Homo sapiens: one gene and its partners. The protein of the gene in region 4 purifies or fractionates together with the protein of the main gene of each other region. This does not show direct contact. Each region holds a gene or a part of one and is shown on either strand. Other genes may lie near its edges.

Region 1 (7,531 bases), on a different chromosome or scaffold from region 4:
GTTCCTAAGCCAACTAAATATAAATGTAAACCTGTTTCGAAATGATGTTAGTGTTAAGACATATGCTACTCGAAACCCACCCTCGCCCCCCGCAATAAACACGAAGGACGAAAATCTAAAACCAACACTTACATATACTCCAGGTTACTACCAGAATATTTAAATGGCAGAATCCGAAATGAAATTGTTAAGATTAAACCTTATGACAGACAGTCTCAGTATCAACCGTATTTAATTTCATACCTTAAAAGTAAAACCGGCCGAGCGTGGTGGCTCACGCCTGTAATCCCAGCACTTTGGGAGGCCGAGACAGGCGGATCACCTGAAGTCAGGAGTTCGAGACCAGCCTGGCCAACATGGCAAAACCCCGTCTCTACTAAAAATACAAAAATTAGCCGGGCGTGGCGGCGGGCACCTGTAATCCCTGCTACTCGGGAGGGTGAGGCAAGAGAATCGCTTGAACCCGGGAGGCGGAGGTTGCAGTGACCCGAGATCGTGCCATTGCACTCCAGCCTGGGCAACAAGAACGAAACTGTCTCAAAAAAAAAAAAAAAAAGTAAAACCGAGGTAAGGTCAGCAAGGTCTTTGTTTTGGACAAGAAGCACAGAAGAGTTACAAACAAGCTTTTAAAATCAGATCCTTATAATAAAAACGAGTGTGTGTGTGTGTTTACTATTACCGTTTTCTGAGCTATCAATTTCTCACGGCCTGACTATGCCTATGGTCAGGTCATGAGAAATCTGTATGAAAAACAGCTTCCAAGAATGTCTATTCTTATGAAAATAAATATTAAAAACTTTCTGTAGAAAAAAAACTTTCAGTATAGGTAAAGTTACAACTGTTCACATCATTACTTTGTTCTATTAATACACACAAAATTAATTCCGACAACTGAACTAGTCATTTTAAAAACCCTGTTTTGCATTATTTCCCCCAACAAAGCATCCTAGGGGTGCTACAGTGAAACATGCTCAAAGACCATTGCCACCTCTGCTGTTCTGGAACAATGTAAATTTCTTCAAGGTGCCCTCTACTAACCAAGTTCATCTGGCCTGGGGCTAAGTTTTATCATTTATTCTTTCATACAGTACTGAAGGAAATCCGGAATCTATGAATATCATTGCCAACACCCCCTACACATTTCAAACCAGCTACCACTGTCCTCTGAAATCACTCAAGCCAGGTTTCCAGGGTCTCAACTCATTCGCATAGTTATTCAATTCCAACTGCAGGAAATCACTTGCATAAAGTAGGCCTTATGCAGGCTCAAATTACATTCAGGGACGTACGAGGCTCTCACAGCGATCACCATAAATTGGCTACCTTGTACTGGCCGAAGTACGTCAACGTGAACACCAGACACTCGAGAAAAACCGAACCTCGGCTACACAATGGATTAACCCAGTCAGAAGGCTCCAACTTGCAACTCCTTAAAGACGCTGAAGTTGGACATCTACAGAGCACCATTTTGAGTTTAGAATCCGCAGTTCACGCCTAGAAATAACCGAGCGGACCACTCAAATGGAGGTTTCATTTGGCGGAGGCAAAGGTTTGAGACAACTCCACTAATTACGTGCAGAATCACCAATACCGTCAAATGCCTTCGAATGCAATAGGTGCAGCCACGATCTAGCGGCTCCTCCTCCCCTACCTCCCGGCACAACATCCAAGCAGCAAGCCTTCATTTTTGCTAAGATCCCCAAAGCTCCGTGTAACATGCTTGCCAGTTATTTCTTCCCCAGGTTAACAGGCAGGGAACCCCCACATCCACATCTGCACATTTTCATAGCTACGAATCAATTAATTAAATCTCGTCCTCAAGGTAAAGGTGCAAAGGAGGCACCGCTTAAAGCAGAGGCGGCAACCAGGCGCTCGGGTTACGTTATCTGATAACAGGACAGATGTTGTACGGCTCGTTTTCCTCATACGCATTACTCCGCAGTCCGCAGCACCGTTAGAAAATCCACCTGATTTCAGAGCCGCAGAGCGCCCAGGGGTCCTTCTCCGCCCACCCGCAGCACGCCCCGGGTTTTTCTCTTCCCCCAAACAACGGCACCGGGCTCCTGCACCAAAACACGGCGGGTTCGCGCCTGCCATCACCAGTGCAAAATCTGCGGGGGGCTGCCCGGAAAGGACCGAATTTCACCGCTGCATGAGTTTTAAAAGGGAGGGGGCACATCCATCTTCAGCCCTCCATTCCACTCCCGTTTGATTGTGATGCACACCGGGCGTCTGCACAGCCCCGTCTCACACTAGCACACACGCGCCCCGGCCCCGGCCGCTTCCCGCCGCTCCCCTCAAACCCGGCCGGCCCGGGGCCTGGCGCCGCACGCGGGTCGCTAGGGGCCAGCGCCCGCCCCGGCTCGGCTCGGCCGAACAAAGGGCCCGCGAACCTCCCGGCAAAGTTGCGGCTGCGGCGAGGAGCGGGCGGACTGCCGCGCTCACCTGGGCTCCGTCCCCGGCGGCGGCGGCGGCTCCGCGGGGCTCCGGTGGCGCGGGCCTGGCGGCGGCGGCGGCACGAACAACCGCCCGAGGGCCTCGGGAGTGCGCGGGCGGCGGGGGCCCGCTCAGCGCCGGCGCCACGGACTCAGGTCCCGGCGCGGGCGGCGGCGGCGGCTGCGGCGGCGGCGCGGGCGAGTGGGCGGCGGCGCGTCCCGGCAGGTCCAGGTCCGGCCCCGGCAACGCCGCGACGCGTCCTCCTCCTCACGCCCGGCGGGATGCGGCTCCGGCGGGGTCCGGGTCCTAGGCGGCGGCGGCGGCGGCGGTGGCAGCTGCGGACGGCTGGGCGCGGGGCCGCTCCGCTCCCTCCGCCTCCGGCTCGGGCGGGCCCGCGGCTACTGCGACGGTGACGGCGGCGGGAGCGCGGCGGGCGCTGGGACTGCCCTGTCAGGGGGCGGCCCGGGCGGCGCTCAAGACTGCGCGGCGGCGGGGCCGGCGGCGGCGGCTACGGCTCCCGGGGCCGTCGCGCTGAGGTGCGGAGCTGCCACCGCGGCCATCTTGTTGCTCTAACTGACAAGAACCCCCCTCCCCCCGCTTCAGCCAGACGGGGCGCTCGCGCCCCCTTCCCCGCCCCGCGTTGGCCTCCAACAGGAAGTCGTCCCGGCCCCTAGCACGTGACTCCCACCGTATCTGCATACCGGAGGGCGAACTGGCCAATCGGCACTCTGCACCTGAGCTCCTCCCCCGCGCGCCCCTCCCGGCCCATTGGCTCCTCGGCCAGGCCACGCCTCCTCCTTTCCCCTTAATACCCGCCCGCGCTGTGGTTCCCTGCACCGCGCGGGGAGCGCGCCGGGGTGCGAGCGGTGCGCGCTCCGAGTGGCCGGGACGCGCGCCAGTCCTGGGAGCTTGCACTGCTCGGGGGGGTTACGTGGAGACTTGCGTGGTGTCCTTTACCGCCGCCGCCTGCCCTCCGGTCCCTGGGCGCTGTGGCTCCGCGTTAGGGTGCTGGCGGGAGGGGTGCCGATCCGGTTCTGCGCGTCCGGTGGGTTCTCCGGGCCAGCGCCCCGCGGCGCCCGGGCTTTATGCTGTAATTGCGCCCGGCGGCGCCCGGCGCCCGCACCGGCGCGCGTCTCGCCCGTGCCGTGCACACGCCCTGCACCGCCCCACTTTGCACACGCACACGCACACGAGTCCTTGGGGCCCTGGAGCATCGTGCTCGCCTCGCGCCTCCCGGCCCGCCCTTGCGCTCAGTCGCTCCCCAGGGAGCGCCCAGCTGCGAGCAAAACAAGCCTCGCTGCGAAACAGTCCCCCGGGGAGACAGCCCTTTCCCCGGAGCACAGACACCACACCTTCACCGCGCAAGCCTTCGGTCCGGGCCGAACCCGGGCGCTCCGGCGCCTACGCACCCCACGATTCCTCCCCGGTGCTCCGTACGCCGCCGTGATCCTCCATTCCACGGCTCCTCGATATCCATTATTCATTAGTGGTAGGTAAGGTCAGGCGCAATGTGCAATTCGAAAAGTCCCTTTTTAACTTTCGGTTCAAGCCAGGAGAAGATTTTGAAACCAAGAATTTTCTCCATTTTCATGCAAGGTCGCAGAAGCAGGCTAGCTTTTCCCCCATCGTTCAGTGGAGGATCAGCAGTGCTACTTGGAAGTTGGTATTGGAAGAGGCCATTCCCTGTCTACGTGTCCCTGTCTTGAAGAGGAGATAATAACACACTAGTACTTTCGCAATGCAATTTTGTTACCGCAAGTGTCATGCTTTGAAACGACTGTGGATGAAAGAGACAAATTCCCCGCTCTCGTTTCCCTTCAGGGTCCCATGAGCTCCTTTCTTCTTACTGCCATATTTTAAGCCCTCCGGTAGTCAGATTCACAACCAGCCTCTAAAGGGTCGTCAAATGTCTGTTGTATCGTGTTGTGTATTTCCCCTCCCGAGAACCCACATCCCTTAGAAGGATCTGAAGGCAGAGGGAGCTGACATGGAGGCTTCTGCCTTGTCTATTCATTTTATTTACGTTCATTTAATTCTCGACTGCAGAGAACCTACATCTTTTGTATTTCTCAAAGGTAGAGGTATTATCACATGCTCCAGAAGGGAGTGCAAAATAACATCTTCAAAATAGGCAGCGCCCACGAAGTAGACTGCTGCTACATAAATGAGGAATCCAGGTATCTGGGTGGACCAGAGTGGACCAATCATTGTGATAAGCAGAGCTTCACTTTTTGGAAAATTGAACCAAAATACATTATTTAGCATTGTCTTTGGTTCCCTTTCTTATCCCCCTCCCTCAGTTTAATCAGGCAAAAATCGTCCTCTTCTCCAATGATATTAGACTCTGAGCACCGAGAAAAGGCAGAACTATAGAGACTATATGTTCTGAACCCCAAACTGGACTCATAGTTTGGCATGTGGACCTGTGACAGTAGAGATAATGTTTGAAACTAAAGTTGACCCAGAAACATTGAGGCATATGGTGGCCATGAATGTTAAGACTGCAGAGCAGTGTCACTTATTAGTGGTTGTTTGAACTGATAAAGTATGAGTAGGAACCCCAGGCACAACTGTAAAAATGGGTACGTTCATGTTTCGGGTTGGTCATCCTGTTATCAGCCCTGCCACCACCACCTTATAACTAAGGTATAAGTTGATCATCTATAGGGCTGGGCATGGTGGCTCACGCCTGTAATCCCAGCACTTTGGGAGGCCAAGGCAGACGGATCAGGAGGTCAGGAGATGGAGACCATGCTGGCTAACATGGTGACATCTCTACTAAAAATACAAAAAATTAGCCAGGCATGGTGGCGGGCGCCTGTAGTCTCAGCTACCTGGGAGGTTGAGGCAGGAGAATCCCTTGAACCTGGGAGGCAGAGGTTGCAGTGAGCAGAGAAGGCGCCAATGCACTCCAGTCTGGATGACAGAGCTAGATTCTGTCTCAAAAAAAAAAAGGGTAAAACCAACAAAATTACGTTTAAGAGGACTAAATGTTAAATGTGTCTCTTAAATTAAAATGTCAACTAGTTGAGGACAAATGAAGAAGACTTAGCTGGATACAAGGTAATGTAAAAAATTCTAGTTATAGATGACCACACGTTCAACAAGGCTAAATGTGTGAACTGCTTGAAGACGACAACAACACTACGTTAAAATAGTGTCCAGTTTAAGAGATTGCACTCTGAGCTGGTCAGATCCCAAATGGAGTGTTTTGGCCAGTTCTGAGCACCAGGGTGCAAGAAAGAAATCGACAAAGTTAGAGACTGACTCAGAATACAGCCAGTTGTTGATGGAAATCCTCCAGTCTGACCAACAGCTGAAGAAGCAGAAGAGATTGGTGCAGGGAAGAAGAGACAAGCAGGCCAGGATGGCTCTTTTCAGATATTTTTGAAACTCCTGTATGCAAATAGGTACAGATATATTCTTTGAAATCCTGAGAAGCCAACCTGAGATCAGTGGGTGGTAGATATTAGGCAAATTAGTTCAAATATACACTGCACCCTACAAAATGGAGTTTCTATCAAATGGAGTTATTAATAGAAACTCCATTTCGTAGGGTGCAGTATATACTGCTCAGGTGATGTGTGCACCAAAATCTCACAAATCACCGCTAAAGAACTTACTCATGTAACCAAATACCACCTGTACTCCAACAAGCTATGGGAAGAAAAAGAAACTCCATTTAGAAAGGTAGCAAGATCCACATCTGTGCAGGGGTTTAAGTGGAAAGACAGGATGATCACGTCCCTATCTCCATGACTATTGCAAAACAGATTACTGTGTTGACTAGCTCAGGGTTTCCCAAAGTGTGTTCCCCCAGACCAGCGGCATTGGCTTTACCTAGGAGCTTGTTAGAAGGGCAACTTCTCAGACCCCATTGCCAGACCCAGTGAATCGAAACCTCTGGGGATGGGGCCCAGGTATCTCCATCTTAGCCAGCCCTCCAGATGATTCTGAGGCGATGAAAATTGGAGGAGAGTAATAAAGACACCTTTTTGAGGGCTGTATTTGCGTATAATACCCCTCTCCATGCCCAGTCACTTCCTACCACACACTGGTGCCTGAATTACTCCATCCTCCTATTTCTGTTGATTTTACACGTATAATTTGCATCCTAATGATGGACTCTTAAAGGGAAAACCTTCAGGACTCCAACAAATGATTGCTTTTCAATGAAAATGTAAGAAAGCCGGGCTCAGCTCTCCCTGCTTGTCACCGATAGATAGCAACTGAACTGACTTAGAAAAATGTGATAAATTTACAGAGGCCTTTCAGACAAGCAGCAAGGCACAGGGCGTCGGTTCTCAAACTTTCTGTTGATGAGAATCGCCAGGGTAGCTTGTTTGAATTACAAATTCACCTTAGGTCCAGATGAGGCCCATGTATCTGCATGTCTAATCAGCTCCCCAAGTGATTCTGATGCCTTTGTCCTCCCACTATGCTGATAATAATATTGGAATAGAGACTAGAACCTTACAATAAAAGTAAGGGTGAGTCTCAACTCCACTGCTCACTAATTGTTTGACCTTAGGCAAGTTTCTGGGCCTCTGACTTCTCCTTTGTACTCCTCACTGAGTTAGAGATACTTGCTGAATTGCCGTGTATTACGTGCCAGGCAGCGAACTAGGTGCCAGGGATTTAAAGCTGCAAGCCGTGCTTGAGCTATGATTACAATGCATGGAGGTGCTGCAGGAGACAGAAGAGACTCAGGTCATTCTGAAGGGCTCAGGAAGACTTCTCCAAGGGCCTCAGATCTGAGTCTTGAAAGATGCAAGGGAAAGCAGTAATAGGTCAGAAGCTGATGGAAGGGCACTGAAGAAAGAGGGAAAGGTCAGTGTAAAGGAAACCCAAGAGAGCTTGCAGCGCAGCACTTTCAGGGGGCTGGAAGACATTAGTGGGGCTGCAACAGCCCAGGTAAGAGGAGATGGGAGAGATGAGCAGAGGCCAGATTATTATTATTATCTTTGTTTTTTGGAGATGGAGTCGTGCTCTGTCACTCAGGCTGGAGTGCAATGGCACAATCTTGGCTCACTGCAACCTCTGCCTCCCGGGTTCAAGCAATTCTCCTAACTCAGCCTCCCAAGTAGCTGGGGCT
Region 2 (8,006 bases), on a different chromosome or scaffold from region 4:
GCCGAGGCAGATGGATCACCTGAGGTCAGAAGTTCGAGACCAGCCTGGCCAACATGATGAAACCCCATCTCTACTAAAAATACAAAATAGGATTAGCCAGGCGTGGTGGCGGGTGCCTGTAATCCCAGCTACTTGGGAGGCTGAGGCAGGAGAATTACTTGAAGCAGGGAGGCTGATGTTGCAGTGAGCCAAGATCACGCCACTGCACTCCAACCTGGACAACAATAATGAAACTCCATCTCAAAAAAAAAAAAAAGTAAAAGATAGGAATACATGACAGATCCAGGTAGTGACTTACTCAACAGCCATTCCTCCCCATCATCGCAACTATTGGATCCTGATCTTGTCCATGTATGCACTTGCCTTAATGGAGGCAGGCCCCAGGTCCAGCCCTAGTCCTAGTCCCAGCTCCAATAGTCATGACTGTCTGAGGCTGGACTTGGTGAGCCAATTTCCCTTTCCAGTTAGAGGTCTAGTCATAGATACATGATGAAAGTCTGGCTAAGAAGACAGGATGAGAAATCTACTCAAAGGCTTTTGGGAAAGGTTTTCATCACACTTTTAAAAAAAGGCATTGCAGAAAAACATTCCTTCATCTGCTGGTAGACATTGTCATATCTGTGTGGGATTCCTGGAATCGCGGAACTGTGAGGGGAGTTGGCCAAAGAGGATATACAGTGAATGGTAGAGAGGAAAATGTAAAAACCTTCTTCCTTGATAGCACTGTTGAGCCATTAAATTAACCAACCCTAGCCTGGCACAATAGTATGTGCCTGTAATACCAGCTACTTGGGAAGCTGACGCAGGAGCATCGCTTGAGGCCAGGCATTTGAGATCAGTCTGGGCAACATAGTGAGACCACATCTCAGAAAAAAAAAATTTTGTTTTAATTAGCCAGATGTGATGATGTGCACCTGTAGTCTCAGCTACTTGGGAGGCTGTGGTGGGAGGATTGCTTGAGCCCATGAGTTTGAGACTGCAGTGAGCTATGATTGTGCCACTGCACGCCAGTCTGGGCAACAGAGTAAGATTCTGTCTCTAAAAGAAATTAATTAATTAAATTAACCTTTCACCTATCTAGAAAATACTTGAGATTAAATAAGAAATCACATTACTGGGTGAGCAAATTTGAGTTGAGTTTTCTGGTACTTGCAGACCAAAAGCATTTTACTGAACCCTACGTCTGGAGGAACAACAAGATAGAAGGAACCTGGGTGGGTCCCTGACAACCTTGCAGGAGAAAGTCACCTACCTGTCCTTACTGCCTGCCAAATTCCGAGCTGCTTCATCAAAGAGAAATAAACCTCCACCTTGTCTGAGACCCTGTATTTGAGAGTCCCTTTGTTACAGTAGCTTAACCTGTACCTTGATTAATACAAAGAAGAGCTTGGCCACTGTCAGACAGCCTTCCTCATCAGACATGCTGACCCAGCATGGACACCCACTGAGAGCTGCCTGTGCCCCACATCTCAGGTACTTAACCAGTAATATTACTGCCTCCCACTTCAATTTTTTTTTGTTTTTGAGACAGAGTTTCGCTCTTGTTGCCCAGACTGGAGTGCAATGGCATGATCTTGGCTCACCACAACCTCTGCCTCCCGGGTTCAAGTGATTCTCCTGCCTCAGCCTCTCGAGTAGCTGGGACTACAGGCATGCGCCACCACAACCGGCTAATTTTGTATTTTTAGTTGAGACGGGGTTTCTCTATGTTGCTCAAGCTGGTCTCGAACTCCTAACTTCAGGTGACCCGCCCGCCTTGGCCTCCCAAAGTGCTGGGATTACAGGTGTGAGCCACCGCACCTGGCCCCACTTCAAATTTTTAAAAAAAATACATAAAAACATTTGCAAAAATGCTGCCATCTTAATCAAAGCCAAAACACACTTGAGGGGCCACTGACAATCACCTGTAACAAAGCTGTTGGAACTGGGATTGAATCAGATGGGGTCCATTTGCACTTACACCTGTTCAGGTGGCATTTCTGTGTTCACGAACACCTGATGGAACTTCCTGCCCCCAGGATAGGTGGGCAAGATGAGCTGGCCTTTCCTCCCTGCACATGTGAGGTGATAAATGTGATAGAGGGCCTCTCAGGCCTGCTTGGCTCCAGGCTCAGCAATGGCAACCTGGGCTCTGATTCCATCAACATCTTGCTGAGAGGTGGACTAGGCTGAGCAGGCAGTCTCGGGCTTCCATCCATGTCATTTGATGTGCTGGCTTTGTGGCAAATGTGCACAGCATCCTAAACCCACAATCCCTACTGTTGTCACTGGGTAAGATGCCGTGGTTCTTGTGGAGACACCTGCTATACTCGACATAACAAGATCCTAGACATTCCTTCTTATCATCTGCACAGCCCTCCAGAGCTGCTCTCTCCATACGGCCTCAGTGCCCATCCGGACTGCTCTCCTTGCAGGGTACCTGCCTGGCCCCTGTAGCTCCTGATGTAATAATCTCTGCAAAATTTGACCTGGAAAAAATGAAACTGACCAAAAGGATGGCCCTACACATACCAATGAAATTGTACAACAGAAGAAGATATGATTAGCAAAATTGGACATGGAGCCAGAACCTAATCCACAAGTCAAATATTTTCAAAATACAGACAGATGCCTTTAAAGTCCAACACAAAACAAAAATGCTCAAAATACGTTGATTATATGAGAGTTCCTGACTAGTGCAGTAAGACAAGAAAAAGTATAAGATTTGAAAAAAGAGACAAAACCTTCATTATTCACAGACGATATGATTGGCAATACAGAAAAGTAAAGAGATTCCAAAAACCACTGGAAATTTTTTAAGGTTTCAACTTTGTTGCCAGATATGGGGTCAGTACACAAAATTCAATCGTGTTTCCTCTAACGGACACCAACAAACCATATGTAACTTCTGATTTACAATAATTTCACTTACAATAGCAGTCAAACCACGTGGTACTTTGGAATAAATCCCCAAAAGTATGTAAGACCTTTATGAAGAAAACTATAATATTTTATTGAAATTCATAAAATAAGGCCTAAATAAGTGAGAAATCAAGTGGGGTCATTGATGGAAAGACTCCGTGTTATAAAGTGGTAATTCTGTACAAATGCAGTGCAACGCCAATTAAGATCTCATAGTTTCCTGGAACTTAGTAGGCAGGTTGTGAAATTTATATGGAGGTTCCAAATATAGCTGAGACCATCTTAAAGAAGACGAAAGAGAGAGAAGAATGTTTCCCATAAAAGAAGAAACTGGAGTTCAGATTTCTCTTTGGAAACTGAAAGATCCCCCCACAGTGGACCCTCACTTCTGGAGAGGAATATTCAGCTACAGTTGACTAGCAGTTGCCCCTTCAGATAGAATATTCGATCTCCAGTTCACCCAGTATATCTTCTACTTAAGGCACCTGCCTGACCCTTGCAGATATTTGATTATGTGATAGTTACCTGGAGTGAGGGCTTAAGATAAGAGGAATGGAAGAGATTGTTTAAAATACATCTATTGTTTGGTTGTGTAAGTATTCTCCTCATGGTGAAACTTGACCAGGCAAGTAGAAAGAATAACAGAGAAGTATGTGAATCTAAGACATTGATGTTTCTGGTAATGGTGAAGTTCCGAGTATGATCACGGGAATGCGTGGCTGAGAAGGGATAAAGGAAATGGTGCCTGAGGATATAAAGTGAGAGGACTGGAAAGTGCAAACGGCCCAAGTCAGTGGCTCCCCTGAGACCAATACCAGCAGTTGGGATGAAGGGAATCTGCCTGTTAACAAGGTTTCCTAGGATCTGATGCACAGTTCTTGATCCACGGCGTCAGAAATAAAGTGGTTAAATAAATATAAGCTACCGGCCGGGCGCGGTGGCTCACGCCTGTAACCCCAGCACTTTGGGAGGCCGAGGCGGGCGATCACGAGGTCAGGAGATCGAGACCATCCTGGCTAACACGGTGAAATCCCGTCTCTACTAAAAATACAAAAAATTAGCCAGGCGTGGTGGCGGGCGCCTGTAGTCCCAGCTACTCAGGAGGCCGAGGCAGGAGAATGGCGTGAACCCGGGAGGCGGAGCCTGCAGTGAGCCGAGATTGAGCCACTGCACTCCAGCCTGGGCGACAGACCAAGAGTCCGTCTCAAAAAAGAAAGAAAGAAAGAAATATAAGCTACCTATACGTGGGGCTGCCTATTAACTCCGCCAAGTGACTTAACTCCTGCCTCTTTATCTGTAAAATGGGCATAATTACAGCATTGTTTTTGGAAGATTCCATGTAATAAAGTCTGAAGTGTGCTTAACACAGTACTGGGAACTTAAGCAGCACTCACACTTCATCCTAAATACGACGAAAGTCTTTTCAAAAAAATAAAAATTAATGCAATATGACTTACTTGGAAATGTATCAAAAAATAAAGACCGATGAATGGATCGAGGCGTAGTGTGACAGAGTAAAATTTTAATGATAAAAAGTTAATGGTAAAATGTTCACTGTAAAACTTTCAACTTTTCTTCTTGAAAACGTGCATAATCCGACGTGGGAAAAAAAATAACGCATTGCAGTCAGTTCTGGGGAAACGGAAAGCTAAGTTTTAATTTTGCTATTGCTTTTGCTTTTTTAACAGAAAAGGTACAAAAAAGAAAAAATGGGAGAGATGTTGCCGAACTCCGTCCCGCCTGTGGGCTGTGGGCCGTTAGCAAAGCTGCTAGCATGAAATCGTCGAGCACCGCTTGCGAAACGCCAAATCCTCGAGAGCGAGGCCGGAGGCTGCCAAACCCGCGCTGGGGAAAGGGCCGCCTCCGGGCGCCCCATCCCGCTGCGGACGGAGGTGAGGTTGGAGCGAGCGCTGGCGGAAGAGAGGCTCAGCGCAGGGGGCGCAGAGCCGGCGCTGGCCAATATGCGCCGCATGTGATACCTTTGAGGGCGCGGCGGGGGAGGGTAGCGTCAAATTTCAAAAAAAAAAAAAAACCAAACCCACACAGCCCCGGCGGGCGGGCGCGCGCGATGGGCGCCCTTTGGCTGCGGGAGCGAGTGGAGGATGCTGGGAAGGAGGTAAAATGGCCACCGGCGGCGGCGCGGAGGAAGAGAGGAAACGGGGGCGGCCGCAGCTTCTGCCCCCCGCGCGGCCCGCGGCCCGGGGCGAGGAGGCCGACGGCGGCCGCGAGAAGATGGGCTGGGCCCAGGTGGTGAAGAATCTAGCCGAGAAGAAGGGCGAATTCCGCGAGCCGCGGCCGCCGCGGCGGGAGGAGGAAAGCGGCGGCGGTGGAGGGAGCGCCGGGCTCGGCGGCCCCGCGGGCCTGGCGGCGCCGGACCTCGGCGACTTCCCACCGGCTGGCCGCGGGGATCCGAAGGGCCGTCGGAGAGATCCGGCCGGCGAGGCGGTGGACCCCCGCAAAAAGAAGGGCGCTGCGGAGGCGGGCAGGAGGAAGAAGGCCGAGGCGGCGGCGGCCGCCATGGCGACCCCGGCCAGGCCCGGCGAGGCCGAGGACGCGGCCGAGCGGCCCCTCCAGGATGAGCCGGCGGCGGCGGCAGGCCCGGGCAAGGGTCGCTTCCTCGTCCGCATCTGTTTCCAGGGAGACGAGGGCGCCTGCCCGACCCGGGACTTCGTGGTAGGAGCGCTTATCCTGCGCTCCATCGGCATGGACCCGAGCGACATCTACGCGGTCATCCAGATCCCGGGCAGCCGCGAATTCGACGTGAGCTTCCGCTCAGCGGAGAAGCTGGCCCTGTTCCTACGCGTCTACGAGGAGAAGCGGGAGCAGGAGGACTGCTGGGAGAACTTTGTGGTGCTGGGGCGGAGCAAGTCCAGCTTGAAGACGCTCTTCATCCTCTTCCGGAACGAGACGGTGGACGTGGAGGACATTGTGACTTGGCTCAAGCGCCACTGCGACGTGCTGGCCGTGCCGGTGAAAGTGACCGACAGGTTTGGGATCTGGACCGGGGAGTACAAATGCGAGATCGAGCTGCGCCAGGGGGAGGGCGGGGTCAGGCACTTGCCAGGGGCCTTCTTCCTGGGGGCCGAGAGGGGCTACAGCTGGTACAAGGGGCAGCCCAAGACATGCTTTAAATGTGGTTCCCGGACCCACATGAGCGGCAGCTGCACGCAGGACAGGTGCTTCAGGTGCGGGGAGGAGGGGCACCTGAGCCCTTACTGCCGGAAGGGCATCGTGTGCAACCTCTGTGGCAAGCGAGGACACGCCTTTGCCCAGTGTCCCAAAGCAGTGCACAATTCCGTGGCAGCTCAGCTAACCGGCGTGGCCGGGCACTAAACACCCGCCTGCCTGCCAGGGTGAACACACAGCCAGCTTATCCCTCTTAAGTGCCAAAACTTTTTTTTAAACCATTTTTTATCGTTTTTGAAGGAGATCTTTTTAAAACCTACAAGAGACATCTCTCTATGCCTTCTTAAACCGAGTTTACTCCATTTCAGCCTGTTCTGAATTGGTGACTCTGTCACCAATAACGACTGCGGAGAACTGTAGCGTGCAGATGTGTTGCCCCTCCCTTTTAAAATTTTATTTTCGTTTTTCTATTGGGTATTTGTTTTGTTTCTTGTACTTTTTCTCTCTCTCCTTGCCCCCCTCCCGCCCTCCCCGCCCCATACCTTTTCTTCCCCTGGATTTTCACCCTTTGGGCTGCCTTGCTCATCTTTATGCCCCAGCACTAGGTACGGGGCCCAACACGTGGTAGGCACTCCATCAGTGTTTGCTGAATTGAAAACATTGTTGACTGTGGCTTCTATCAGAGTGTCTACCTTTTGCAGCTCTTCCCCTCCCTCATTTAATTTGCTGCTTTTAATCTACGTGGTCTGAGAATTTGTGAAACCAGTGTTGTTAGAAGTGTATATAATCTGAATCAATAAGCTCTGAATGGTGGCCAAGGGCCTCTCTTATGGCACAAAGATGCATGGACTTCATGACAGCTCTTTTGGTGGCTCAGAAGCCATTTTTTATAGAATCATGGAATCTAGAATATTCCTGCTGGAAAGAACCTGAGAGTTGGTTTGGACCAATTCCCTGGTTTTCCAGCAGATGAAACAGGCCCAAAGAGGTTAAATGACTGGGTGAAAATCACATAGCTGTCTGGTGCCAGAGCCAGCCTATAGTAGAGTCCCCTGACCCCAAGCCCGGTGCTCATTCCACTACCTCTCACACTTCACAACAATTTCCTCAACACTTGAGGGCCCAGAAAGTCTGATCTCTCCAGAATGATCAGCCCAGAGGAATGCTGAGAAATCACCTGGAGGAGGGAGCAGAAAGAGAAGGTTTTTAAGGAGGGGCTTCTGAATACTTGGGAGATACGGAACGGACCAAGGACCACACTCCAGGGTGCATTCGTTGCTCCCTGGGGCACCACTTCTGGATTACAGTGTGCCAGGTCCTTTGGAGGCCCTACCCCTTCCCCATTCATTGCCACCAGTGAGAAATGGGGGTGCCCCTGTGTAAAGAAACCTACCAAAGGTTTACATTTGCACCTTAGCCTCAATAGCTACGAACCCTAGAGAAGCAGCTAGCTGGAGCTCATGTGCAACTCCTGATTCTCAGGAGAAAGATGGATTTTAACCCAAAATTATGAGTGAGCTGTTAACTCTAAAATGTACTTGGGAGATAGGCCAAGCGAGAGGTCATGGGCCAACTAAGTGTTATCCAGTAGAAAAGACAGTACACTGCTTTTCTTTTAGTGTTTGCTTTTCCTTTGCTATATGTTTTGCTATTTCCTTGTGGCTTAGAATGTAAAATTGATTGTTAAAAGTTTTGTTCTGAATAAATATTTATCTTTTGTATTGCTAAAACTGGTGCACTATTTCCTTTCAAAGTGTTAGATGCACAGTTACCCAGCTCCAGACCGTATTTCAATCCCACTTCCCCTACACTCCATTTGTTTACCTTGCTAAATACATTTCCCACCCCTGCAGGCAACACTTAGCACCTACTACGTTGTGCCGGTCCCTTTGCATCACAATCAGCACACTGTTAAAACGGGTTTTAAGTCCTAACACAGTTCCAATAAATCAGAATCACTGTTAGAGGAAGTGAAACAT
Region 3 (7,767 bases), on a different chromosome or scaffold from region 4:
GGAGCTTGTTATATCCACAGTCGGTGTCAGGTGAAATTGTCATTTGAAGTCAAAGCTACCCTAAATACAGTCAAATATCATGAAAGTGATTTCTAAAATAAACAAAAATGTACTTGGTCACAGAAAGTTTAAAAAGAAAATTGCAGTCTGTAAACTTCAGATTCACTACCTACCTCTCTGGCTCGATGGAGCTGTGCGCGCTCAATCCTAGAGATGATATCCTTTACTGAGAATGGGATCTCAAGGTTAGGGAGCATCAAAGGACTAAGGATATTTTGGGGCTCTCTTCTCATGATGGTGGAATCCTTGATGCATTTTTCTGATTCAGGGTCATTGTCTATCTCATTTTTCATTTTGAAGAACATTTTGAAAATGTGGGTGATTTCGTTTTATTTCTTCTTTTTCACAGAATCTACAAAAATGCTAATAAAGATATCCAGTAGGAAGCTAGGAGAGGTCTTTCCTGATCCTAGAAGTTGTGGCATACTCTGCTACTAATTGGTGGCTCCCATGATATTCCCGTCCTGTTGATGTCACAATAGACCCATTGTGACATTATCATTGATCAAACATGTAAAGAATGCTTACTATGTGCAGAGAACTGGTCATTCTATATGCTGCCATGGTAGAAGGGTGAGGGGGGAAGGAGGGTAGGAAATAATAGACAACAGGAATGCTAAAATAAACAGAAGATATAGCCCTGCTTAAATAAGCTTAAAATCTAGATGTGTTGGCCGGGTGCAGTGGCTCATGCCTGTAATCCCAGCACTTTGGGAGGCCGAGGCAGGTGGATCACCAGAGGTCGGAGTTCGAGACCAGCCTGACCAACATGGAGAAACCCCGTCTCTACTAAAAAAAAAAAAATACAAAATTAGCCATGTGAGGTGGCACATGCGTGTAGTCCCAGCTACTTGGGAGGCTGAGGCAGGAGAATCACTTGAACCCGGGAGGCGGAGGTTGTGGTGAGCCGAGATCACGTCATTGCACTCCAGCCTGGGCAACAAGAGTGAAACTGTCTCAAAAAAAAAAAAAAAAAAATCTAGGTGTGTCAAATATAACTCCTGGTTCTTCTCTCTTCCTGGGGTTTTGCTTAAGTATTTTTAAGCCTGTAATGGAATAAAGGTTACAACTACTTCCTCAGCTGCCCCTTAACTTTTCCTAGACATGTAGTAACTTGGATGATATCATTTGGATGAAGTAACTTGGATGATATCATTTGGATGAGGATCACACTCTTTGCACTGCTTACTCTTTTTTCTTTTCTTTTCTTTTCTTTCCCTTTTTTTTGGAGACAGAGTCTCACTTTGTTACCCAGGCTGGAGTGCAGTGGTGTGATCTTGGTTCATGGCAACCTCTGCCTCCCAGGTTCAAGAGATTCTTGTGCCTCAGCCTCCCTGAGTAGCTGGAATTACAGGTGCGCGCCACCACGCCTGGCTAATTTTTGTTTAATATTTGCTTCCAATTTTTTTAATAATAAAAAAGCATTACAGAAGGTTGAAGTCCTCTTTGATGTCCCCCACCCCTGGTTCCTTCCTTCCCCACTGTCCCATTCCAGAGGAAATGACAATCATGAATTTTACATATTTGTGTTATCTATTTTTACATAGTTTTACTACAGGTGTATGTATTGTTTTTTCTTTCTTTCTTTCTTTCTCCTTCCTTCCTTCCTTCCTTCCTTCCTTCCTTCCTTCCTTCCTTCCTTCCTTTCTTTCTTTCTTTTTTTTTTTTTGAGGCAGAGTCTCACTCTGTTGTCCAGGCTGGAGTGTAGTAGTGCCATCTCAGCAGACTGTAACCTCTGCCTCCCAGGTTCAAACGATTCTTCTACCTCAGCCTCCCGAGTAGCTGGGATTACAGGCATGCGCCACCACACCTGGCTAATTTTTTTTTTTTTTTTTTTTGAGACGGAATCTCGCCTGTGGCCCAGGCTGGAGTGCAGTGGCATGATCTCGGCTCACTGCAAGCTCCGCCTCCCAGGTTTGCTCCATTCTCCTGCCTCAGCCTCCCGAGTAGCTGGGACTACAGGCGCCCGCCACCACACCCGGCTAGTTTTTTGTATTTTTTAGTAGAGACGGGGTTTCACCATGTTAGCCAGGATGGTCTCGATCTCCTGACCTCGTGATCTGCATGCCTTGGCCTCCCAAAGTGCTGAGATTACAGGTGTGAGCCACTGCACTCGGCCTACACCTGGCTAATTTTTTATATTTTTGGTAGATATAGGGTTTCACTGTGTTGGCCAGGCTGGTCTCAAACTCCTCAAGTGATTCACTCACCTCGGCCTCCCAAAGTTTAGTTGTCAACTAAACTAAATTTGCATTATTCTTTCTCTCTCACTTGCATCTTTTATGCAGCATGGAATTCATCAATCAGCAACTAGACATGAAGGCTTTTCTTTGAGACAAAATCTCACTCTGTCACCCAGGCTGGAGTGCAGAGGCACGATCTAGGCTCACTGCAAGCTCCGCCTCCCAGGTTCACGCCATTCTCCTGCCTCAGCCTCCCAAGTAGCTGGGACTACAGGCGCCCACCACCACGCCCGGCTAATTTTTTGTATTTTTAGTAGAGAAAGAGTTTCACCGTGTTTGCCAGGACAGTCTCGATCTCCTGACCTCGTGGCCTCCCAAAGTGCTGGGATTACAGCCATGAGCCACCACGCCTGGCCATGAAGGCTTCTTAAAGTCAATTTTTAAATCCTGCTTCCCTTTCAATTCGACAAGCATTTGTTGAAACACTATGCAGCTTACATTATCCTAAACTGAAGAATATATGATAGGGTTCCTGTGAAGAAACTAAAACAAAAAAGAAAAGATTTAAGATAGAATATAATAATCAAGTGCTAATAAGGGACACGAAGAAGAGATCTGTAGAAGCAGAATCTTTGAGAAAACCTTATGGAGAGAGAAGGTTGATTGACAAATGGAGGCAATCCAGGTAGGGGCAACACCTTGAGCCATGGCTTTGGCGGTGAGTGCTAATGAGTTTGCATCTTAGGGGGAAAGTAAGGAGATTGGTTTAATCACTGAGATGACTTCACGGGAATTTACTGAGGACCACATTAGGGTGGGCCTGAGATAACAGATATCAGCAATTTGGTGGTGGAATTAATTTGGTATCTGAGGAGATTCCATTTGCGGCAAAGCAAGGAGGATTTCATGAGATCAGAATGGCAAAGTCTTGAAATCAAGTAACAGTGGTTTGGTGAAAATGAAACCTTCACTTTGGGAAGATTTTTTAAATAATAGAATGGAAAAATCCATTGGAAAAGATCAAGACATGATTATTTCATTTTTATTTATTATTATTATTTTTTAGAGACAGAGTCACACTCTGTCACCCAGGCTTGAGTGCAGTGGCGTGATCTTGGCTCACTGCAACCTCTGCCTCCCAGGTTCTAGCAATTCTCCTGCCTCAGCCTCCCACGTAGCTGGGACTACAGGCACACACTGCCATGCCTGGCTAATTTTTTGTATTTTACTAGAGATGGCATTTCACCATGTTGCCCAGGCTGGTCTTGAACTCCTGAGCTAAGGCAATCCACCCGCCTCGGCCTCCCAAAGTGCTAGAATTACAGGCGTGAGCCACGGTGTCCGGCCAATTTTTATTCGTTACTATTATTATTACTATATTTGAGACAGAGTCTCACTCTGTCACCCAGGCTGGAGTGCAGTGGCGCGATGTTGGCTCACTATTAACTCCACCTCCTGGGTTTAAGCGATTCGCCTGCCTCAGCCTCCCGAGTAGCTGGGATTACAGGTGTGCACCACCACACTTGGCTAATTTTTGTATTTTTAGTAGAGATGGGGTTTTACCATGTTGGCCAGGCTGGTCTTGAACTCCCGACCGCAAGTGATCCGCCCGCCTCAGCTTTCCAAATTGCTGGGATTATAGGCGTGAGCCACCCTTCCCAGCCAAGACATGATTATTTCAAAAGATGAGTGTTTGAACTAGGACATACAAGTGGGAGCGATCTATCCTACTACATATTGCTAAAGACAATAAGGAATTTGGACCATCTAACAAAAATTATAGATAATTTTAAAAATTTTGTTTTTATTGTATTTCGTTTGAATTAATGACAGAACGTCAAAGAAGACACTGTCCAGATTAAGTGTTATTACTGGTATATTAAGCGGTGACATGGGTAATTAATTCAAATGAGCCTGGGGCAAAGTTCTTTAAAGGGAAACCCGACCTCCTAGAGGGCTTCTTCAACTGTAAAATGGGGATGATAATAATAGTGTTTATTGCATAGAATTGTTTTAAGATCAATTAACATAAAATGCTTAGTATAGTGCCAAACACAATGTAAGCATTTAATATACATTAGCTGCTATTAACATATTTGCTAGTATCATAGTTTTTTGTTTTTTTTTTCTTGTCTACTTTTCTTCTGTGAGCCACCACTTTTCGGCAGGGTTGGTTTGTTCAGTACACTTCGCCAAGGTCGGCTTTAAAAATCAAATCTAGATTGTGAACTATGAAAACTGCGGAATTATCAGTGCTGTGTAGCTATCTGACAAGTGATAAAATGTGTCATTACGATTTTTACACATCCCCGTGCCACAGAATGGCGTCTCCTTCTAATCGTTCCCCCCGACAGATGATAGTACATCCCACACTGCTGCTGGAAAAGATAGTGCAAAAGTTGAGCGCGCCGAGGGCTCTCTTTTCTCCCGGAAACAATTTTTCCCTAGACCCGGAAGCAGTTGTTGTTTCAAGGGAGGTGGGACTGGGCGGGTCAGGCCGCAGCGGCTGACGGCAGGGGAGGAGCCGGGTCCACTGCCGGGTGGAGGGGCAAGGCGAGTGTGTGTCCTTATCCTAGCAATTGGGGCGCGGGCCTGTGAGCCAGTTGGAGTTGCGGCGGCGGGAACGATTGGGCTGAGCAGAGGACGACATGTTGCTTTTCGTGGAGGTGAGTGCATTATGCTAGTCTCGTCCTGCTCTTAGGAGAGCAGGAGTGTAGAGGCGCCGGCCGGTCCCACCGCCATGTGACTTTCCGGGCCGTACACGCCGCGGAACCGGCAGATAGGCTGACACAGCACCTGGGCCGAGCAGGCCTGCAGCTTCCCTCTGCGCGCTCACAACACTCTAGGAAGCTATGGGAGGTGAGGCCCGTAGTGGAGAAGAATTGAAGGAGAAAAACGGAGGGCTGTTCTGGTGTGGCGGTGAGGTTCAGAGGAAGGGGAAAGTGTCCCATATGGACCTCCTAAAGGAGGCAGCATTGGGGGGTTGGGGGGCGGAGTCTGAGGGAGGAGAGGGTAATCAGGTGGGCGCGTTCCGGGGGCCGAGCGCGGCCTCGCGGGGCCCCTCTGGGAGGGAGGCGAGCAACATGTGGGGCCACGGATGGAGAAAGGTGAAATGCGGTAAGTATTTTGAAAAGAAAATTGAAAAGTTCTTTTGAGCAACTTCCACCAAATTCTGCCCGGGCCCCGTCCCTAGGTCTCTGGAACGTTCTGTGGGTGAAAGCGAGTTACTTTGAATCGAGGAGAAGCCAGTAGGGTTTGGAAGCCTTGAAAGGCACCGCTTTGACCTTTTGTAAAAGTTACTCAAGCAGCAGCTGCGTGATGAAGGGTTGGTTCTATGAACCGATTAAAAGCCCTTTACAAGGAAAATTCCAAGAATGAGGGAAACTTATTCCGGGAAAAGCCGTTTTTTGTAATGTTATTTGAACAATGAGACACTTTTATTACTTAAACTAGAACGTCTGCTGTTGGCCTATTTTAGTTTTCAAGATAGAGTTGGATACCTGCCTTACAGAAATACGAAATTTAATTTCCCTTAATTCTGTCCTCTTGTGTGCAGTGAGCGTCAGCTGACTGCCTGGCTAATGCTTTGAGTAGATTCCAGATCATATTGTTCTTACATTGTGAAAACGTCAAACCAGCAAAGCTGCAACTTCGCAACTTGGCATTTGTTAACTATGCCCATAAGAAGAATCTTTTCAATGAGGGAAGGAATTTACGGGTTGTATAATGAATCTAGGAGCCGGGGCCAGCCTATGGCAGATTTTTTTTTCCGGGTTGTGGGAAAATCTTACTCCGTAATATTCCAGCATAAAGTAAATAAATGATTTTACGGTTTTTTTTTCTCTTTAAACTAACTGATATTGTGTCGCCGATAAGCTTGATATCTTTAAATTAGTTTTTTAAAAGACTGCTACATTAGAGTGTATCTAACATTCATAATAAACATTCATTGGAACATTCCGGGGAAATCATGAAAAGACTTAAAATTACTGAACTCATTCTGTTTACTGTTTTCTGTCCTCATTGTTGTTTTCCTTAGGCAGAATAAGAAATCAGATAAGATTTTAAGCCAGTGCCAGCCAGTTTTTTTAAGGAATGTTATGCTATGTAAATACCACAGGTTTTAAGTGTGTGTTTTGCTGGGCAGAAGAAAGATTGTGAAGTTTATATTGACAGGAACTCCACAATATACTTTTGACTTCCAAATTGATTCCTTTGGCTTTATTAAAATGTAAGTTTTAATAACAGCTCCATTTATTGTTTAAACTAGGTCTTCTCCTGTCTCTAAAGCGATACTTAATATGTTTTACAGATGACAAAACCGAGCCCCAGAGGTTAAAGTAACTTTACTTAGTAAAAGTAAAGTAGTTTAACTGGGATTTAGATCCAGGTCATGCTGATGTCAAATCATGGACGGGATGTTAGCAATTCAGGCCTGTCCGACTCCCCAGGTTAGACAAATTCTATCGTATCTCTCGCCAAACTAGTGTTTAAAAGTTGTATCTCCATTAATCATTTTCTTTGTGAGTCACTATGTCATTCTTCATTTTCTCATATGAGTTTTATTGAAAATTAACTGTCTTTAAATATTTGGGGCTGAATATGTGGTATTAAAATCAGTGAAAAACAACATGTTGGTCGTTTGGCGTTTTGTTAACTAATATTTGATCCCTGTAACCTCATGATAGAGGAATTATTCTCAGTGAGAGAACCAAAGCTCAGAAGTTAGATGTCTAAGGTCATTCAAGTGTAAATAATGTGGGGGCTAAAGTCTGAAGTCTGACTTCTAGAACATAAATTTCTGGCTTCAAAATTATTTTTGTACTTTCCCATAAGTCAAAGGTTCTTAATCTAGGTTTTTGGATAGAATTGAGGAAGTAAGTACCTAAGCTTGGTTGAGGAAAAAAATTTGCGTGTTTATTTTCTCTAGCTTCTAACTGAAATCTAAATGGAAAAGAAGTGAAAATTCTTTAAATGTTAATGGCAGCAACAGTGTATGTGACCTTGTCACCAAGACAAATCACTTTTTTACATGTATTACAGCTTTTGCAGTTATCTTGAAATATTTATGCTCATTACTTGCTATATGTCAAAAATATTGTTAACGTATTGCTATATTAGACATTTTAAAATATTTTGATAACTGCGTTTCAATATAATTGGTTTACTTTGTGATCCTATATATTTTAGAAATGTAAAAAAACGGAGAAGAGATCCATAGATTAATTGGACTACTAAAGAGGTCTGTGTCACAGAAGAGGTTAAGAACTGCTTTACTAAACCAACTTGCTTGTGGATCATCTTTGGCAGGGTTAATCTGGGATCCCTGGGTCCTCTGCAGTTGTGTTCAATACCTTTTACTTATGTGTATTTTTCTGGAGAGATTCCAGCTTAACTATCCCACTAGAATCAGTAGGATAGATAATAGCAATATAACAATAACAACAGTAGTAGTATATACTTGTATCGTGCTTTGTGTCAGGAACGTTTGATGTTTTTGCATATATAGATATCTGTACATCTT
Region 4 (6,952 bases):
GGATGCCTCTGCTCCTGGAGAAAAGGGCTCTGGCAGGGAAGCCTGAGGGGCTGGTTCCAACTGTACAGGTCCTGTGGACTCCTCAGAAAAGGAATGGTGAGATGGATTTTCATAGGAGAGCCTCTCCAATTTCTCCTTGGGACTTTTTTTTTTTTTTTTTTGAGACGGAGTCTCTCTCTGTCGCCCAGGCTGGAGTGCAGTGGCGCCATCTCGGCTCACTGCAAGCTCCGCCTCCCGGGTTCACGCCATTCTCCTGCCTCAGCCTCCCGAGTAGCTGGGACTACAGGCGCCCGCCACCACGCCCTAATTTTTTGTATTTTTAGTAGAGACGGGGTTTCACCGTGTTAGCCAGGATGGTCTCGATCTCCTGACCTCGTGATCCGCCCGCCTCGGCCTCCCAAAGTGCTGGGATTACAGGCGTGAGCCACCGTGCCCGGCCTCTCCTTGGGACTCTTACCTTGTATGGAATGGAAGTGGTGCCTCTGGGGTCCCAGACACGGGAGAGAGGAAGCAGCCCAGGGGCTGGGAGAAGTGGTGAGACCCAGAAGAACGGTGGACCCAGTCAGGAAGGGTCCTGCCAGCAGGGCGTGGGCCAGCCTCGGGGTCTTCCCCAAAAGGCAGGTAGGGGCCTCCAGCAAGCTTCCCACCTCCGTGAGGCTGGAGAAGAGGCCCCCTGGATGAGAAGGAAGAGGCCGGCAGGTCCGGCGGGCGCAGGCACAGGTAGACTTCTGGTGGGAAAAGCGTGACTCAGCCTCCTCCAGCGGCTGCAGGACGTCCCCCCGCTAGAAAGGGCCGGGCTCCCTTTGCTGACCCAGAGTCAACCCAGCGATTCCTCCCGGGGAGGCGGGGGGCCCCGGCCCCGGCCCAGAGCGCATGCCTATGCCGGGAGCTGGGCGAGGACAGGGCACAGCCACAGCTGGGTGCCCAACGGGAAAGGCGGCCGTTCCCCCTCAAGCTGCACCTGAAGGGGTCCCCAGGGTCGAGGCCACTTCTCCTTCGGCTCAGGGTTGACCTTCAGTGACCACTGTGGCCTGCGGGCATCCCCTGGGAGGGACGGAGGGGGATGGAGGAAAACTCCAAAGGGAAAGGCCGAATCCTGCAGGGTCTGGTCGTCGGAAAGCCAACCATACAGTCAGCCCTCCCTCTCCTCGGGCTGCCGTCGCCATCCGGGTCCACACGGGCTCTAAGACAAAACCCCAATTGCCCCCAAGGCCCCATAGGAGGGGCGCTGCCAGAATCGCCTATTTTTAGTGAAAGAGAACCGGGCCGGGAGACGGCGGCAGGGGGCCGGAGCATTCCCGAGGTCTCGGTCTGGGTGTCGCGAGGCAGGGAAAGAGGGCGGCCCCGGAGCGGAGCGGGAAAGGGGGCGGGGCAGGGTGGGGCCGGACGTGGCAACCTCCCGCTTCCGGGACAGTGACCCGCGGCGCGGCAAGGCCTTTCCCTTGGGCGTGGGTGGGGACCTGGACTCCCTGTGGAACGTTTAAGAAAAAGAGAACCGAATGAGGTTTCGCGAAAGGAAAAAAAATGTAACTGTGATCTAGTGCTGTTGACGGCCGCGAATGGAGAAACCCCGTGTTCTCGAGGACAAATTGGAACTCCTCGGCGTTTTAGGTCCTCAACCCGGGAACCCCTCGCACCGCGAATCTCAGTCCACAGCGGGAGGCGGGTGTGGTCGTTCACCTATTTGTGCCCGAGGGCTCAGGGAGGCGCTGGCATGACCCGAGTGGGGGGCAGCAAGCTGGTTAGCGGGAGGGTGAAGGCAGCGGTCTTCCACGACCACCACAATCACCTGGGTAGGGATTGAGTCCCGTATTGGAAAAGCGAAAGAACAGTCAGCTGGGGGTGCCAAGGAGGCAGGTGATGTATACAAACCTGGAGCCTTAGGATGGTCCACAGGCTGCGGAGGACCACAGCCAGGACAACGTCCCGGAAAGCCCAAGGGAGACTGCGGCGGAAGGCAGGGGAACCTGCAGAGGACCAGGAGAGCAAGCTGTTTCAGGGAGGGATCCTGGCCTTCCCTGCACACCTGGGCGTCTACAGCCTCCGGCAGCTCTGCCACCCTCCCTCGCCTGTCTTCTGCCTTTACGCAGGCTTTCTAGCAGACATTGCCAAGGTTCTTCTCCAGGCCTTCAAGGCCCTAGGTTAACTGCACCCTCCATTTCCCTGCTCTGTCCTCAGCCCCTCCACACTCCAGCTCAGTACGTTGGCACTAACTCTTCCCTCCGATTGAAATATTTTTCCCCCATTTGACTTCCCTCCACAGGAACATTATTCTCCCATATACCCGCAGGGCTCTCTCCGTGTCTCTGTTCCAATGTTCTCCCCTCTTCGCATACCGTAGGAAGTAAACTGCAAATAAAACAAACCAGGGTCCCCCCTCTGTCTTGTTCACAGCTGTGTCCCCAAGACCTAAAATAAGGCCTGGCACCCAAGAGGTGCTAAGTTTCACAACATTTACTCTGCCTTGTTCAGGGCGCTTTACATTTGCTTCTTCACTTTCCACACCACCATGTAATGTAGATACTAATATTATTTCCAATCTCATTTCACAGATGAGAAACGAAAGTTGATAGATGTCACAAATAGAAAAGTATATACTTAGGTATAATGCCCCCTTTATTTTGCATAGATGTTGGTGGCTGCTATCATCCTGATCTGTGCCCCTGTTTAAAACTACTTGAATAGACATGGTGCCAACACTGTCTCTTATAGTCAGAGATGGGTGAGAATGGGAGCCATTACTTATTTAAATTCCTGCGGTCGAGCGGAAGGCAGAAGGACAGTTAGGTATCCGTGTTCCACCGCTTCCCTGTCTGGGCACGTCCTTCAGGGCACAGTTGGACCCCCAGACCCCTGGGCTTTTGTGTACGCTGGCTGGGCCCAGAGAGAGCTTTCCACTAGATGTCCCCAGAAGTCAGAACCTTAAGGTCCTCCTTTGGGCATTTCCGTTTCTGCGAGAGCTTCCCGTGTTCTGGCCTAGGCAGGAACGGATTGGCAGTCTAGCAACACACAGGGCAATTTTTACTTTATTATTTTATTGTATGTATGTATTTATTTATTTGAGTCGGAGTCTCGCTCTGCTGCCCAGGCTGGAGTGCAGTGGCGCGATCTCGGTTCACTGCAACCTCCGCCTCTCAGGTTCAAGGGATTCTCCTGCCTCAGCCTCCCGAGTAACTGGGATTACAGGCACCCCCCACCACGCCTGGCTAATTTTAATTTTTTTTATTTATTTATTTGGAAAGAGGTTGCATCATGTTGGCCAGGCTAGTCTTGAACTCCTGACCTTAAGTGATCCACCCGCCTCGGCCTCTCAAAGTGGTAGGATTACAGGCATGAGCCACCGCGCCCGGGAAAAAGAGACCAATTCTTAGTTCATCCAGAGTAACCCTCTCCTGCCTTAGTCCAGCCTGGACTAAGTCCTTCCGGAGTTGGTGTGCATCAGAACAAAAACCTCGTGAGGGGAGAACACCCTCCGGAAGCACAGTTTTAAAGTTTATTTTTAACATTTTAATACTCTACTTTTTAAATTGCCCATCGTTACCCACGATAGTGAAATGAAAATTAAGCTCCCCTGGGGTTGCCCCGTCAACCCTCCCCGCACCAAGTGGAACAGGCGGAGCTCGAGCTATGCCACATAGGGGCGGGGAAGCAGCCCGGCGGTCCTCATGGGAATGTGCCGTACACTTCACCTCTTTCGCTTCTCGCTCTACATCATCCCTGAGAAGCCTTTTTAAACACTTGAATGTGCTTGTTTCAGAGTGTATTTGTAAAGTGCAGTCAGATTTTGTTGTACGGAAGACGGGACTGTGATGCCTTGCAATTTCCCTCTGCCTTTTGCATTACATGGCGCCGCCATCTTGAGCAGAAATGTATCATGGGGCTCGCCATTTTGCATGGTCGAGCGGGTATTTCCGGTTCCGGCGGGGGGCTTTTCTCTCTCTCTTTCACTGCAAGGCGGCGGCAGGAGAGGTTGTGGTGCTAGTTTCTCTAAGCCATCCAGTGCCATCCTCGTCGCTGCAGCGACACACGCTCTCGCCGCCGCCATGACTGAGCAGATGACCCTTCGTGGCACCCTCAAGGGCCACAACGGCTGGGTAACCCAGATCGCTACTACCCCGCAGTTCCCGGACATGATCCTCTCCGCCTCTCGAGGTACGGACTAAGGTAGATTTCAGGACCCGAGATTGCAGGGCTGGGGGATTCCGCGTGTCGTGTAGGGAATTCCGCGTGTGGTGTGGCAGGCCGGTGGCGCGCGAGTTGGCGGGGACTGACAGACTTCTCTGCCCCATTGTGAATTGGGGCGTGCGGACCCGAGCCTAGGCCTCAACCCGGGCGAACCACATTGCAGATGAGAACCTACGTGTACATCAGCTCGCAGCTGCTAGGAGGGTTGGAGAGTTGGAAACTTTTAAAATATCTTTTGCCTTCTCCTTCGTAGTGTGGCCGGGGGCCTACGGGCCGGGCGGGGCGGTGATGACCCCAACATGCCATCTGAGTGTCGGTGCTGAAATCCAGAGGCTGTTTCTGAGCTGCCGCCCGGCCCAAGGCTCGTGGGGAGGCAGGTGGACTCCAGAGGACCTCGTGGCTCAAGTGTCGGCCTACTTTTTCTGCCCCTGGTTCTCCCCGTCCCTATCCCTGTGTTCCTGACTGCGTTTAGACGCTTCTTGTGCTTCCGCTTTGCTGCTACACTGTTAAGAATTGTCTGACTTTTGAATCATGTCTGGCTGTTAATCGTAAAATTTGTTGAGTGGGACAGGTTTCAGTAAAAGCATCCAATCCTGTAGCGCCTGAAGTGGCTTTTCCAGCATTCATTACTACATTTCTGTCGGCCCTCAGAGGTAGGCATAGGAGGCCCCAGCTACTCTACAGCCACAAACTGCTGTGCATTTGGTTGCAGAGAAGACACAAAGTGGCTGTTGAGTTCGTCTGAGTTTCAGGAAAGGGTGTCTGTATTTCTGGCACCTAAATTAAGTTCTCAGGATACAGGCTGGGCGCGGTGGCTCACGCCTATAATCCCAGCACTTTGGAAGGCAGAGGCGAGTGGATCACTTGAGATCAGGAGTTAGAGACTAGCCTGGCCAATGGTGAAACCGCATCTCTAGTTAAAAAATTAGCCAGACGTGCTGGCAGGTGCCAGCTGGCCAAGTAATCCCAGCTACTTGGGAGGCTGAGGCGGGAGAATTGCTTGAACACGGGAGGTGGAGTTTGGAGTGAGCCGAGATCATGCCACTGCACTCCAGCCTGGGCGACAGAGCGAGACTCCATCTCAAGAAAAAAAAAAGTTATCAGGGTACAGTTTACCTCTACGTGCGTTTTTAGTCTGGAATAGAGCCACTCAGTCCTGGTCTGTAACTGCTCTTGTCTGTTGTTTCCATCCCTCCTTAAGCGTCCTTAGTTGTTGTTAACCCACTCATGACCTTGACACTTAGTGAATTATCCAGTGTGTTAAACGGGCTGCGGGTTCCTCACTGATTTTTCTTCTGTTTTACCTCCTTTAGATAAGACCATCATCATGTGGAAACTGACCAGGGATGAGACCAACTATGGAATTCCACAGCGTGCTCTGCGGGGTCACTCCCACTTTGTTAGTGATGTGGTTATCTCCTCAGATGGCCAGTTTGCCCTCTCAGGCTCCTGGGATGGAACCCTGCGCCTCTGGGATCTCACAACGCAAGTAGCTGCTCACTTAGCTCTGGGGCCTTGGGAAGAATCTGGGCAGAAGTGAGGTGGATGCAATTGGCTGGTTTCCCAGGGGAGATCCAGTCCATTTGGGAACTGGAAAGCAGAGCACACCTACAGAAGATGTTTGGCCTCCCTCACTTTAAATAAGTTACTCAGCATTGCTGAGGAGTGTGGCTGAACATTTTTGCCAGGTGCAAAAGTTCTGAGTGGGCAGCAGTTTGAACATGTTTTACCTTGAAAGCTCAGGTAATTGGCAGGTGGAATTAGAGGGTCCTGGTGATGACAGATGGCATTGTCAGCCAATCCCCAAGTGGGAGTGAGGACATGTCCTGCAATTCTGAAGGGATTCTCTGTCACTTGGCTCTTCTCTTTCATATACTCAGTCACTTGACTCTGTGATCAGAGCCAAATCCAGGGTTGTATGAGTGATGCAATGAGACAGAGACAAAGCCCAGGAAATGAGTCTGACCGTTGAATGAGAGTGTTTGCTAAGTCTGAGAATGACAAACTCCTCCCTCTCAGGGGCACCACCACGAGGCGATTTGTGGGCCATACCAAGGATGTGCTGAGTGTGGCCTTCTCCTCTGACAACCGGCAGATTGTCTCTGGATCTCGAGATAAAACCATCAAGCTATGGAATACCCTGGGTGTGTGCAAATACACTGTCCAGGTAAAGTGAGCCATCTCCAAGGATCTCTTCCACCCTCTTAAACTTTGCTTTTTTTTTTTTTTTTTGGCGACAGTCTCACTCTTGCCCAAGCTGGAGTGCAGTGGCGCAGTCTCGGCTCACTGCAACCTCTGCCTCCCGGGCTCAAGGGATTCTGGTGCCTCAGTCTCCCGAGTAGCTGGTACTACAGGTGCGCAGCCACCACGCCTAGCTAATTTTTTGTGTTTTAGTAGAGACAGGGTTTCACCATGTTGCCCAGGGTGGTCTCAAACTCCTGGGCTCAGGCGATTTGCCTGCCTCGCCCTCCCAAAGTGTTGGGATTACAGGCGTGAGCCCCCACCTGCCTATCTTTGCCTTTTTTTTTTTTTTTCTCGGAGACAGTTTCGCTTGTTCCCCAGGCTGAAGTACAATGGCGTGATCTCGGCTGACCACAACCTCCGCCTCCTGGGTTCAAGCAGTTCTCCTGCCTCAGCCTCCCAAGTAGCTGGGATTAGAGGCATGCGCCACCATGCCCGGTTTTGTATTTTTAGTAGAGACAGGGTTTCTCCATGTTGGTCAGGCTGGTCTTGAACTCCCAACCTCAGGTGATCTGCCCGCCTCAGC

Evidence for each region.
Region 1: the proteins of RACK1 (region 4) and TNRC6C purify together in Homo sapiens (affinity purification with mass spectrometry; 5 studies listed by BioGRID and IntAct, with this or other methods). This does not show direct contact.
Region 2: the proteins of RACK1 (region 4) and ZCCHC3 purify together in Homo sapiens (affinity purification with mass spectrometry; 4 studies listed by BioGRID and IntAct, with this or other methods). This does not show direct contact.
Region 3: the proteins of RACK1 (region 4) and LARP4 purify together in Homo sapiens (affinity purification with mass spectrometry; 5 studies listed by BioGRID and IntAct, with this or other methods). This does not show direct contact.

What each region holds. Positions count from the first base shown.
Region 1 is NC_000017.11:77,954,183-77,961,713, reverse strand, and holds the start of TNRC6C (trinucleotide repeat-containing gene 6C protein), read right to left. Parts: upstream 3,012-7,531; 5' UTR 2,446-3,011; intron 1-2,445. UniProt on the Homo sapiens protein: Plays a role in RNA-mediated gene silencing by micro-RNAs (miRNAs). Required for miRNA-dependent translational repression of complementary mRNAs by argonaute family proteins.
Region 2 is NC_000020.11:292,565-300,570, forward strand, and holds ZCCHC3 (zinc finger CCHC domain-containing protein 3), read left to right. Parts: upstream 1-5,005; 5' UTR 5,006-5,022; coding exon 5,023-6,234; 3' UTR 6,235-7,757; downstream 7,758-8,006.
Region 3 is NC_000012.12:50,396,120-50,403,886, forward strand, and holds the start of LARP4 (la-related protein 4), read left to right. Parts: upstream 1-4,765; 5' UTR 4,766-4,891; coding exon 4,892-4,909; intron 4,910-5,029; exon of another isoform or gene 5,030-5,162; intron 5,163-5,287; exon of another isoform or gene 5,288-5,360; intron 5,361-6,555; exon of another isoform or gene 6,556-6,652; coding exon of another isoform or gene 6,653-6,694; intron 6,695-7,767. Other genes in the region: protein FAM186A, read right to left, coding at 174-365. UniProt on the Homo sapiens protein: RNA binding protein that binds to the poly-A tract of mRNA molecules. Associates with the 40S ribosomal subunit and with polysomes. Plays a role in the regulation of mRNA translation.
Region 4 is NC_000005.10:181,240,892-181,247,843, reverse strand, and holds the start of RACK1 (small ribosomal subunit protein RACK1), read left to right. Parts: upstream 1-3,937; 5' UTR 3,938-4,043; coding exon 4,044-4,152; intron 4,153-4,467; exon of another isoform or gene 4,468-4,530; intron 4,531-5,498; coding exon 5,499-5,670; intron 5,671-5,954; exon of another isoform or gene 5,955-6,026; intron 6,027-6,204; coding exon 6,205-6,352; intron 6,353-6,952. UniProt on the Homo sapiens protein: Scaffolding protein involved in the recruitment, assembly and/or regulation of a variety of signaling molecules. Interacts with a wide variety of proteins and plays a role in many cellular processes.